Regions from separate parts of the Homo sapiens genome. Here region 2 is linked to region 1. Evidence: fine-mapped expression QTL. Tissue or cell type: whole blood. Region 1 holds a variant in brackets; the other region holds the start of a gene. All regions are shown on one strand. Distances are from middle to middle.

Region 1 (5,857 bases):
CTCTTCAATGCCCAGAATTCTTAGGCATATTTCCAGATATTGGACCAACAACCTTGGGGTTATTTGCCTGGATAAAATATCCATGTATTCAGATCCAGTGGTTCCTCAACTTTAGTATCCCCTTTATGATTACTGGGGGGATTTGATAAAAATACAAATGCCAGAAATTCTGATTCAGTAGGTGTAGGGCATAACCCAGGAATCTGTATTTTAATAATGATCCAAATAATAAATATTTATTTATTTAAATAAATCTGTATTTAAATAATGATTTAATAATGGGGCTATGACGAAATGATCCCCAGACCACACTTTGAGATACATGGCTTTAATTTTTCTTTGTCATTAAAACCTTCCCATGGAAGAACTAAAGTTGGCTCAGACTTCAGGAACTGCATGCTTTTAAACAAGCTTTCAGTCTGACAAGAGTTTTAGCCACCACCACCACCAGCCCCCAGATTCAGAGCATTATCCTGCAGATGGTGTCTTATTCTCACAGTGGCATCCTGCTAAATTCCACAGTGACTGGATAATCATCTCAGGTGGTCACACTGGGAGAAGCAACAGGAACTGACGTAAGGAACCAAACTTTGTTTTCATGCGAATGGTTTCCATGGAAAATTAAACAAGCAATAAAGACATACAAAAAGGTATTGTGCATATCAGTAACCAGAAAAAGTCTCTTATGGGATAGCTCATCTAAATTTGAAAGTACTATCAGCTTTGGAAGGTCTTGAGCTCAAATATTAGAGGGGTCAGCCTAAGGAGCTGGGAAGCCCAGCAAAGGTTAAGATTTCAGGGCAAATATCAAATCTTGCACTGAGAAATCCCTGTGTCGAGCTGTGCCAAAACCAGATGTTTTTACTAGTAATTAGTATTATGATAATTCACTTAACTAGGAATAAAATAGGGCATGATTGTTTACTGCTGCCTGTTTCCCCAGACATGCAGAGAAATGAGAAGAAAAATCTCAGAGGTTTTACTCTTGGCTAAACAGAATGATTTTCTCAATTAACCAGGAACGAACATAGCAACAAAATAATTTGCCCTTACATTATACAAGAGTTGTAAATAGACTTTTAAACACCTCCTTACATGTGGAAGTCAAGGTGGAAGATTGACTGCCAAGGAATTGAAAACATCTTGAGTTTGGTTTCCATCTGAAAAGACACAGTCCTTAGAAACCTACTCACGTTGTCAGCCATGGCATGAGACTTCCAAAAGCTATTCTTGGTTTCTCTTCTCTGTGCTGAACCCTTTCCAAGGCCAAGAAATTGTGGGATGAATTGTGGTAAGATGAAAGATTCTTCTGAGAGCTTAGGAGAAAAGTGTACAGGAGAGCAGAGAACACATATCTGAGAGGAGGCCGACAGCACGGCTGGGCTTTTACATGAATCCTTAATATAAACTAAGAATCGATGGTGGGCAATGAACAGTGATCATGGCAGAGCACACCCCAGCAAGGGAGTTACTCTATTGTGACTGTGTCAGGCTGATGAATCCTGGGGGAACAGGGCGGGGAGTGGTGGGGCACAGGGGCATGTGGCACCCTCACACACACACCCCAGAAGAGAAACTATTTGTAACTGTCAAATTTACAAGAAGCCAGCCAGACGTTCTACAACATAAACCACTTCGTAGAGCATAAGGTACAGCCACATTTCTTCAATAGCAGGACAGAAACTGCATTTTGTCCCCTTAAAGATAATTTTTAAAAAGAGAAACTATGAGCACTTTTGCCCAAATAAAATCTCTTTTAATCCTTATAAATAAAAATACTCTTTCCCATCGGTAGCTGTATCTCTTTGACACCCTCCTGCATTCTCTGCTACCACTGCCTTTTCCTTTACCTCACTCAGGATTTCTCCAAGAGGCTGAACAGGAGACATTAGTGTCTCTGGGTTATGAGATGTGACTATGTCGTAACATGCGATGACGTTTGTGTTCAGGACCAAGGACAGTAGCCCACGTGCGGGCTTAGCCCCTGCTCCCAGCCCCCTTTCTTTGCCCACTCCCTAACATTTTAGCCACATCACATCTATGAGCAGAGGAGTGTGGACCATATTGTTCAAATTAGAAACCAAAATAGGGCTTAATTACCATATAAGAAGCAGTGCTTTTTCCACCAATGTCTACTTTTTACCACTCAATAAATACACGTTGAGGAATGGGACCAGTAAAACTCAGTGTTTCTTCACTACTTCCTTGGGTAAGTCTCCCCAGCGGCCTTAGACCTGAAGATGGCAATTGCAGACTTGGGAAAACAGGTGGCTGAGTACCCTTGTCCGAGCCCTACAGCCACAATAAAACTTACAAGCTCTCCTTGGTTCTCCCATGGCTGGGCTGGCTCTGCACCACCTTAGTGTGTCTCTGAGATCATCATGGCCTTTGAAAGAAGCTCAGTCTAGGCATAAGAACCAGACAAACAACGCTTCTGTCCAATTCTGGGCCTACCAGTGTCTTGAAGCTAGAGATTCAACTCTCAAGAAGCCATAAGTAGTAGAAAACTTGCTTCTTTTTGCACCTTCTGGATTAAGGTCAGAGCACACACATCTCCTAGAATAATGTGCTTTTGCAAGATAGAACATAAGGTACAGAGTATATAAA[T/C]ACCTCACAATTCTGTTAAATACCTTTATTTATAGAAATGAAAGTTAGGAACCAGGATTAATTGCTGCAAATGAAGGAAGTAGAAACTAATTAAAAATGAACATTTTAGCATGCTATCAAAGGGCTAGGGCTCCTTTTGAAGGTGTCCTTTGCAAACAGAAAGAGGTTACAGCATGGAGAGATTATGTATTCTTTTCCTGATTTTCTCTGTCTCTCTCTGTCTCTCTCGCATAGACACACACACTCACACACACTCAACCATATACCTCAGTATATTTAGAATACTGACGTCAAAGAGAAAGATAAAGGGATAGCAGGTCCTAGCTAACCCCAGATTCTTACGTGAATTGTCTCCATTTTTAAAGTGAAATGAAAGATGGAGAAGTTCAAGTAAGTCTAAAACCTGCATCAAACCTAACAAGGCATCCAGGTGCCAAAGGTCACGTTCTACGTCTTGACAGGGTGAGACAAAGCCAAACAGCAAGTAGTCATTGCACAGTAGCATTGCTCATTTGGAGACACTAAAGGGAGGAAGAGGCACTAACAGCAGTCCAGCAACCTGGTCCAGGGTCTTCCCCCACTGGCTGAGTATAGACTTCCACCTGAACCTGCCCAGGGTTACCATTTGCTTCTTGGACAACATCACAGTGAAGAGCTCTGCAATCCTGGCATCATATTCTTTCAACCAACAGTCACAGAGCTTTTATTATACACCAGGACATCTGCACAGCACCCAGGTTACAGCAATAAATCAGAACGCAGCTACATAGGAAAGGAGTCAGACAGGAGCAACGGCATGCCACTATCTTTTTATTTTTTTAATACAGAAAACATAAACTTGAATAGCAAAACTAAAAACATTTTTTACAAACAAAACTCATATCATGGCCGGGCATGGTGGCTCACGCCTGTAATCCCAGCACTTTGGGAGGCTGAGGCAGGCAGATCACCTGAGGTCAGGAGTTCGAGACCAGCCTGGCCAACATGGTGAAACCCTGTCTCTACTAAAAATACAAAAATTATCCAGGAGTGGTAGCACATACCTGTAATCCCAGCTACTTGGGAGGCTGAGGCAGGAGAAATGCTGGAACCTGGGAGGCGGAAGTTGCAGTGAGCTGAGATTGTGCCATTGCACTCCAGCCTGGGCAACAGAGCAAGACTCTGACTCAAAAAACAAACAAACAAAAAAAAAAACCTCATATCGTGTGGTGATGTTAATTATTGAAAGTAAAATGTGACCCATTTTTTTTTGCCGTTGAAAAATTGTCCTCTGTGACACCTAGATGCTCTGAAATAGTTTATGCTTTCGGGCTGGGGAACATTGGTCTTCATCATACTCCTAAACAGAAAACAACTCTCCCATTTTTCTTATCCCCTCCCTGCAAATGGTTCACAAACCCCAAAGCTCTCTCTTGGACTTTGGTTTTCCTCCCTGAAAAGATTACCCTCCAGCGAAACAAGACACTGCACAGGCCACTTGGGGGGAACTTGTCAGTTCTTTGCTTTTCCCAAGACTTATTAATTTGGGCAGGACCTTAGGAAAAGGAAGAAGGGAGTGGGGCCAAGAATTAATCTACTCTGAGCTGTGATGGGTAGAAAGGGGACCTAGCACTTGTTCGTTTAAACTCCTGCTATTTTCACCTCTCAGGGGCTCTGCCTACTCTTGCCAAGTTAATCATGCTAAACAGAGTTGGATTTCTAGCAATACAATGCTCGCATCTAGGGTATCTTTCTGCAAGGTAAGCAATCTTGCCATTGATTCCCCCAGGCACTTGGTGCATACTGTTAGCTGGATTTCAATATCGTTGTGAAACTCTGTGTCTTTTGGAAATGCTTGTGTAGGTATCCCTGCTTAATGGATGTTGGTTACTCTCACAGAGGAAACCAACTTTCTCCCCTAGGATTTGTGGGGAGTAATTTCCCTCAAGCTATTATTACCTTAGGAACCGGTCTCCCAGGGATGAGCTGAATCAAAGCCCAGTCATACCTACTTTCCCTTCCAAAGGAAGATGCCCCCTTTAGGTTGCTGAGGCCTGATTCACATGTTTATTTACGGGGGAAGGCTCTGTTTTCTCTTGGAGAGGCAAAGCTAATTTCAGCCACCTGAGTGTTATAAACATACACACAAGATGTAAAGGTAAAAATGCAGGTCAGGAGGGGCCCTCACACCTCCTAACATAACCCACTGATGCTGCTAAAGGGAGAATCGCAGAGGAGCAGAGGTGGTCTTCCTCTCAGACACAGCCCCATTCTGACCATTCACAAAACTCATTGTCCCAGAGCTCCGGCACTCCCGTGTGCCTTCGCCTTTGCTCTCTGACCTCCAAGGCCCTCCCACTATCACCAGCAATCTCCCTTCCCGTGGAGACAGGGATAAATCTCCATCTTGGGAGAAATGATTTTCAGCCAGACCAGCTAAGCCCTCCAAGGCTCTCAGTTGGGTGGAAGCTCCTCCGGGTCCCAGAGGGGATTAGATAAGGATCTGGGGAGAAATTTAAATCCTGGATGGCAGCTGTAGGGGCTGAAATGAACCAGCCTATTACCCAGCACCTCTCTGACGGTGAGGGTTAATTTATCACATGGAATCCAATCACTTCTTATAAAACCAGTGCAGGTTTCATTTAGTTTGATGAGGTATATTGCAAGATTTCAGAAAATCAATTTTACTGAGAGCCATATTAAGCCCCAGGGAATATAACACTACATGTACCTCACATAAGTTTTTGTTATTACCCAGCGCATCACTGGGGAAATTATATACTTAGCCCAATGAAGGGTAATGACTACCTTCATTGTCTTGGGCAGCTCCCACCTTGCTTACCTCGGTGAAATAACAAATAAAAATGGTAGGGCTCCAAATTGGTACTTACCTACGCTCTGCAGAGTCAGAGGCATGATAAGAGTGAGCAAAAGCAACTTAATTTTCCAAACATTTGAACTGCTTACAGTATGGGATATGACTAGCCCATGCTATAAAATAGCAGGCATTATGGATACTTCCTATTTTGACCAAAGCCCTATTCTGACTGAGCCCCTTAGCTTGAGTTCTCAGAGCAGCATTTGCAAAGGAAGTCACAGTGGACACAAATTGCTTTCAATTGATCTGCCAGTATAATATTTCCAGAGAGTTATATTTCTTAGTAAGAAACTGTTCCACTGTGGCTAAGGAACATTCCTATCTGTGCTCATCTGGTCTCTTGGATACTTTTGTATGCAAAGCAATAAACCAGGCTCACTTTTATGGGGACCC
Region 2 (5,857 bases), 67 kb before region 1:
AAATGGAGATTCTAAAGCCTAGATATTTAAACAAAATTTTGTTTTTTAGACAGGGTCCCACTCTGTTGCCCAGGCTGGAGTGCAGAGGCATAATCCTAGCACCCTGCAGCCTCTACCTCCTGGGCTTAAGTGATCCTCACACCTCAGCCTCCCAAGTACCTGGGACTACAGGTGCACCACCATGCCTGGCTGTTTTCTTTGTTTGTTTGTAGAGATGGGGTTTTGCTTTGTTTCTTAGGCTGCTCTCAAACTCCTGGCCTAAGCAACTCTCCCACCTCGGCCTCCAAAATGTTAGCATTACAGGCGTGAGCCACTGTGCCTGGCCTAAAAAATTTAATTAAAAAAAAAAAAGGTTGAGGCAGCTCTTGCCTAGATTACTAAGTCACTCAACCAGATAACTGCCAGGGCCAAGAATAGAGCCTGGGGCCTGTCTTGTACCCTGATGAGGACATTATGTACTAGTAATGGTTTTATTCTTTAGAATAATGATGAGAATGTTATAAAAACAATTTAGCCTTGGCAGAGATGAGGCATTATCTGCCTTTCTAGGAGGATGTTTGCTACTACAGGTGCTCCAGCACCTCTTATACTCAAGCCAGTGATGTGTGTTTCGGAGGTCCTCAGAGGCATCTCCTCACAAGCCTGGCTGTGTGGCCTCAGTGGTGCTGAGGAGGAGATGTGTCTTCTCTGGCTGGCCCCAGGCCTTAGATGCACTCCATCCAGCTCCGCCTCCTCTCGCCTCTGTGTCCTTCATGCATGTTCCTGCCTCCCGGGCCACTGCCAACATCAATCTGCTTAGGGACCCGAGACCAGTCTCCTCAGAGAGTGTGTAATGAGCCATCCAACAACCACTGTGGATGTGTCCAGACTGTCTCAAAGGCTGTTGGATATTTGCTGGGTCCGCTCTGGGTAACCTTGCCTTTGTGCTACCGAAGAGGAACAATGGCTGGATCATCCTGGAACCTCCTCCTGGAGAATGAGCAGCAGCATTTGTCCTGGCTGCCTTCTGGAGGAAGTGAAATCCAAGCTGCAGAGCCACTCTCACAGCTGGTGCTGGTTCAGTCTACCGCAGATGCGAAGTATCTAATGGACTGCCTCTTGTCTAGGGGCAGGTGAGAGCAGAACTCGTCTAACACACTTTGAGGACAGAGGGGCATCACCCGTCTGTGGGCATTCCCAGCCACATTTCCCTCCCTGGTTCAGGGGGAAGGTCTCCCTGCATTATCTAACTCCAACTCATCATGCTCAAAAGAAAAGTCAGGCGATCTAAAGCCCACAGATAGCCTTGCTCCCCTGTCTCTGTCAAAAACACATATGAAAGCAGAGAAAAATTCATCAGACACGGAAGCAATTGGAGAAGAGACCAGGAGAAAACAATTAGGTAATGAGGATGTGCATTAAACCATCTCTGGCACCTTCTTGACCCAGAAACATTCTTTATGTCCTGGTAATGATGGCACATTGAACATTCCAGGGAATTCCAATCCTGGAAATCAAGAAGGAGACTTACTCTAAAGGCATAGGCGAAAGTGAGTTGTCACCAGGGTGCACAGCTTCCTGGACATTCTACTGGAATAAAACTTGGCTCCCCAGGGGCCAGCAGGAGTCACCCAAGGGCAGGTCCCAAGCAGTCTCCCTTCCAGGCTCTGTAGTAAAAATGAACCACTCTTGATTCGAGGTTCAGAGTCTGAGGTCAATTTCCCCACCCCAGATCTCACTGGGGGCATTAGATCCCCTAGGGCCTTCTTCAGACCCCTAAGATTTATCACTGGCTTCAGAGAGATGAACCAATTCAATTAGCTTTTCCATTCTCCCAGCTTATTTTCCAGGAGCGGAGTGTGGCGCTCATTGTCGCAGTCGAACAAGCTAAAGAGCCTGCAAGGCCCAATACTGACTCCAGGAGATACTGGGAAGGGCTTGCTAGTGATGGAACCTGGCTATGAATCTTGCTTTCCTGATTCTAAAATTGACTCTGCCTGAAGGTGCTGCTGAGGTGCCCTGGGTACTTCTCCAGCGGTGGGTAGAGGAGTGACAGAGGGAGGAGTGCCCCTGACACACAAACAATTTCAGGAAGACAGTTTCCCTATTATCTATTATATAGATTGGGGGGTGCATTCATTTATTCATTCAATATTTATTGAACTTCCACGTATTCCAGGCACTGTCTAGGCGTCTGGGCCAGGATAGAGAGGGGAGTAAGATAGACCTTTCCTTGCTGTTACAGAACTTACGTCTTTGTTGGAGAGACAGGAAATAAACAAGTAAGTTAAAAACCCACAATTTGGGGTAGAGGCCCACAGGTCAGGTTCTGCAGGAAGTAGACTCTGACAAAGAGATTTGCAGGAGGTTTTTGGGGCGTGATCTCAGGAGCAACAAGTGTGAAGGGTGAGGGACGCAGGTCGGACAGATGGAAAAGTTGCTTTCTGTCTTCCTCCTGAGGAGCTTTGCAGCTTGGGACAACAAGCAGTGTTGTCCTAATTAAGATTGGAGGACTGGGCATTTGCACTCCCATGTGACCAGCCTTTGGATGCAAGCTGCCTCCAGGAAGTGGGTGTACATGTGGGTGGAGCAGCTTCCTCTGACAGAGGAAATGACACACCTCTGACACTTTGCAATGCTTGGAAAGTGTCTCAGGTGTGAGTTGGTGGAGCCTGCACTCCCAGCAGCTAAGGTGACAAGCGTTTTTCGGTTCTGCCAGGGGATCTGAGTGGCACACAACAACATCCACTATGAAATGTGGTGTGTGCTGGGTGGGGGCTGACTGAGGAGCTCGAGAGTAGGAGTGAGGCAGGCTATTTTAAAGAGGTGGCAAGGGAAGGCCTCTCTGAGCAAAGGCAGAGACTTTAGGCAAAGACTTGATTGGTGTGAGGAAGTGAGCCATTCAAAGTCAAGGGCACCAGAGGTTCTAAGCAGAGGAAACAGCAAATGCAAAGCAGAGAACAAGCTTGGCACATTTGAGAACCAACAATAAGTCCAGTGTGTCTGGAGCCACAGGAGTCAAGGAGACAGCAGCTGGCAGTTCAGCCAATGGGCTACCAGGAAACCAGATGGCAGAGAGCCTGGTAGACCACGGTAAGGAGTTTGCAGTTTAAGAGTGATGGGAGATGTTGGAGCACTTTGAACAGGGTGAAAGTCACCATCTGATCTACATTTTAAACGTATTATTTCACTAAATAGAGAAATAATACGTTTAAAATGGTAGTAATTGGTCATTGTTATATTGTCATTAACAAGTAGAGATTCTAAAGTCTAGACTTCTAAAAACAATTTTAAGTGAAGCAAATGTTGCTCCATCTGACAATTATGTAAGCCAGCCATACCTGTTCTTTCCCTGTAGGTAGAAGCATATGGGAAACTGCATTCCGATCCAGGGAAGTATAGGAAGCAGTAATAAAAGTGGGAAGACCTATTATAAGTTCGTTGCAGTCATCCAGGTAAGAGGGGATACTGGCTGAAAACAAGGTTTCAGCTATGTGGGCCCTAGCTTGGAAGGGATGGGATTCTACATATGTTTTGTAGCTGGAAGCAGGAGTTTGAGGCTAAGAGATGACCTGAGAATAGAATGATTTTAGGTGTTAGGCCTGAGAGATGAGGGCACATTAGGGAGGAGCATGTGCAGCGGGGGCAGGGCATCCAGAATGCTCTTTGGACATCTTATATTTTAAGTGCCTGTCAGACACCCAAGTAGAGACGCCTGATGTGAAGACATGAATATCTGCAGCTTGAGGTCCTTCGTAAGATCATTTGAAAATAAGAGTTGTGCTACTAAAATAAAATGTGCAAAAAAAAAAAAAAGAGAGAGAGAGAGAAGAAAAAAAGAAAATCGCTGCATCATGCTGTCTTGTGTATAGTTGAATTTTCACATGCTGTGGAAATTCAGCCAGAGATCCTGTGGAAAAATACTGAAAGGACCCTTGGATCACTGATTCTAAGTTTGAAAAAGGGCTGGGCTGGCTGCTTCTAAGCTTGGCTGTCTTGCTTCTATGGGGCAAGTTCGGGAATCTTTTTTTTTTTTTTTTTTTTGTAATTGAGGCAATTGACTTTGTCAGCAAGCTAAGAGTGGATTTCTCTCATAGGGGTGAATTCACATTGATCAATGTAACCAGGCTCCTAAGAGACTGATAAAGCAGAAACTGTTTACCTTGAAAAATATAGTCATCTCACAATTATGTAAGCCAGTCATGCCTGTTCGTTCCCTGTAGATCAAAGCATATGGGAAACTGCATTCCAATCCAGGGATTTCCCAGTGAGTTAGAATTAGACAAAGGGGTTGAACCGAATAGCTCAAACATGTTAAGTTATCAACATACTAAAATCCTGAGCTAATTGGTAAGGAGCCTGCTCCTGGAGCCTCCTGTCTGCTCCTACTCACTGCCCTTCTCATATCAGGGACCTCACAGAGCTCCCAGCCACTAGAAGGTAAATGCAGGTAGAATGGGGACCCTAGGTCCCTGCTCCAGCTGTAGCTGAAGATCTTGCTGTTTGGGTGGTGCCTGTGCTGTATGGATTGTTAAAGATGTTGACTTTCATCCCTGCTTTAGGGCACCCAGTCATGATAGCTGGATGCCCCTCACCTTCTCCATAACAGAGATGCAGCCAGGAGAGGCCCAGAGCCTACTAATGTGCGGACACCCATCACCCCAGCCTTGTCTCAGTCAGAGCTTGAATCATCCCGACGATCCTCCTCGGTCTCATTTCTCTCTGTGTCTGTGACGCTGCATCCATTCTGACAGGCCCTTCTGTCCCTCAGAATGTTCCTGCTGTCAGTCCAGGCTGCTCTGGTCTGAAATTCATCCTGTCCATATAAGGAGACTTTAAATAGATCTTCTTTGATCTGGTGCTGGCTGGTTTTATAATTTTTCTCTCAGATGGAAATTGTATTTCCCATTTCCAAGTTCTTGGGGGATGCCTCACAGTCAAGCCCCATAGACTGTCTACCCAGAGGAGTTTAATTTTCATGGAATCCAATAGGGCCAGTGAGGAAAGAGACCTTAATAATCATTTAATTCAACCCTCTTGTTTTATAGACAAGGTGACTGAGAACCAGAGAAGGAATGGCAGGTTGAATTATTATTTATAATGAATATAATATTTACAACTGGTACAGATCACAAAGAAGACATTAATAAACTGATCTATACCAGGAAGCTGTTCCCTGGTTTTTTATAGCACTCTAAGCCTGGTGACCTTCCTGAGCAAACAGAGTCCCTTGCCTCACTGAGGAGAACTCCAGGGAACACCAAAGGCCAAGGGAGACACCGCAGGCAATAAAACATCCCTAGCAAAGCATCTCAACACCCCCAGACAAAGAAAGGCACAGAACTCAAGAAAGCAGTGACAGGAGAGCTTTAGTAAATGTTTAATGAAGACGGAGCATAGAGGTCGTCCAATGCAGCCCCTCTTTTTCAAGCAAGGAAATGTTATGCGATAGATATCTGTCATTGTTTCAGCCTCCCAACATTCATTTCCTCTTTTGACAGCTGCTGATTTTCTCTCGAGGGCTCACCCCCCTGGACTCTGGGTGGTCCTGGGAGGATGTGAACCCTGTACCCTGACTCCCATCACTGAGGCCAAGAGTCTGGACCCCTCCTCCTCCTCCTGCCCCAGCACAGCAGGGAACCCGGCAGGACAGCTGTCCTCTAGGACTCTTGAGTTCACTCACTTCAGCCACCAAGCGCTGACTGTGTTTCCACCAAAGGGCAGTTCCTGCGGCTTCTACTCCCCCTCTCCAAGGTGCCAGGGTTACTGCCTGTCCTCCAGCCTTCCATGGCATCACTGTCTCTCCAGATCATCTCATTCAATTCTCTCATTGCTCCAGTGAGCCTGGATGGTTTTCTGTTGCCGACAACAAAAAACC

The links. PIP is the estimated chance that this variant, and not a neighbour inherited with it, causes the effect.
Region 2: it holds the start of LINC02273, and the variant in region 1 is fine-mapped to the expression of LINC02273 in whole blood (INTERVAL, PIP above 0.99).

The regions. Positions count from the first base shown.
Region 1 is chr4:152,164,813-152,170,669 of GRCh38, forward strand. No RefSeq gene overlaps it. Among named protein-coding and RNA genes, the nearest start is that of LINC02273, 67 kb to the left of the region's middle. The variant T/C (reference allele first, on the strand shown) is at 2,608.
Region 2 is chr4:152,098,147-152,104,003 of GRCh38, forward strand. LINC02273 (long intergenic non-protein coding RNA 2273) reads left to right here and starts at 2,607. Exons shown (of 3, transcript NR_121628.1): 1 at 2,607-2,671; 2 at 3,338-3,434; 3 at 5,481-5,857. RefSeq lists enhancers at 2,264-2,764, 2,371-2,665, 2,765-3,265, 3,560-4,759.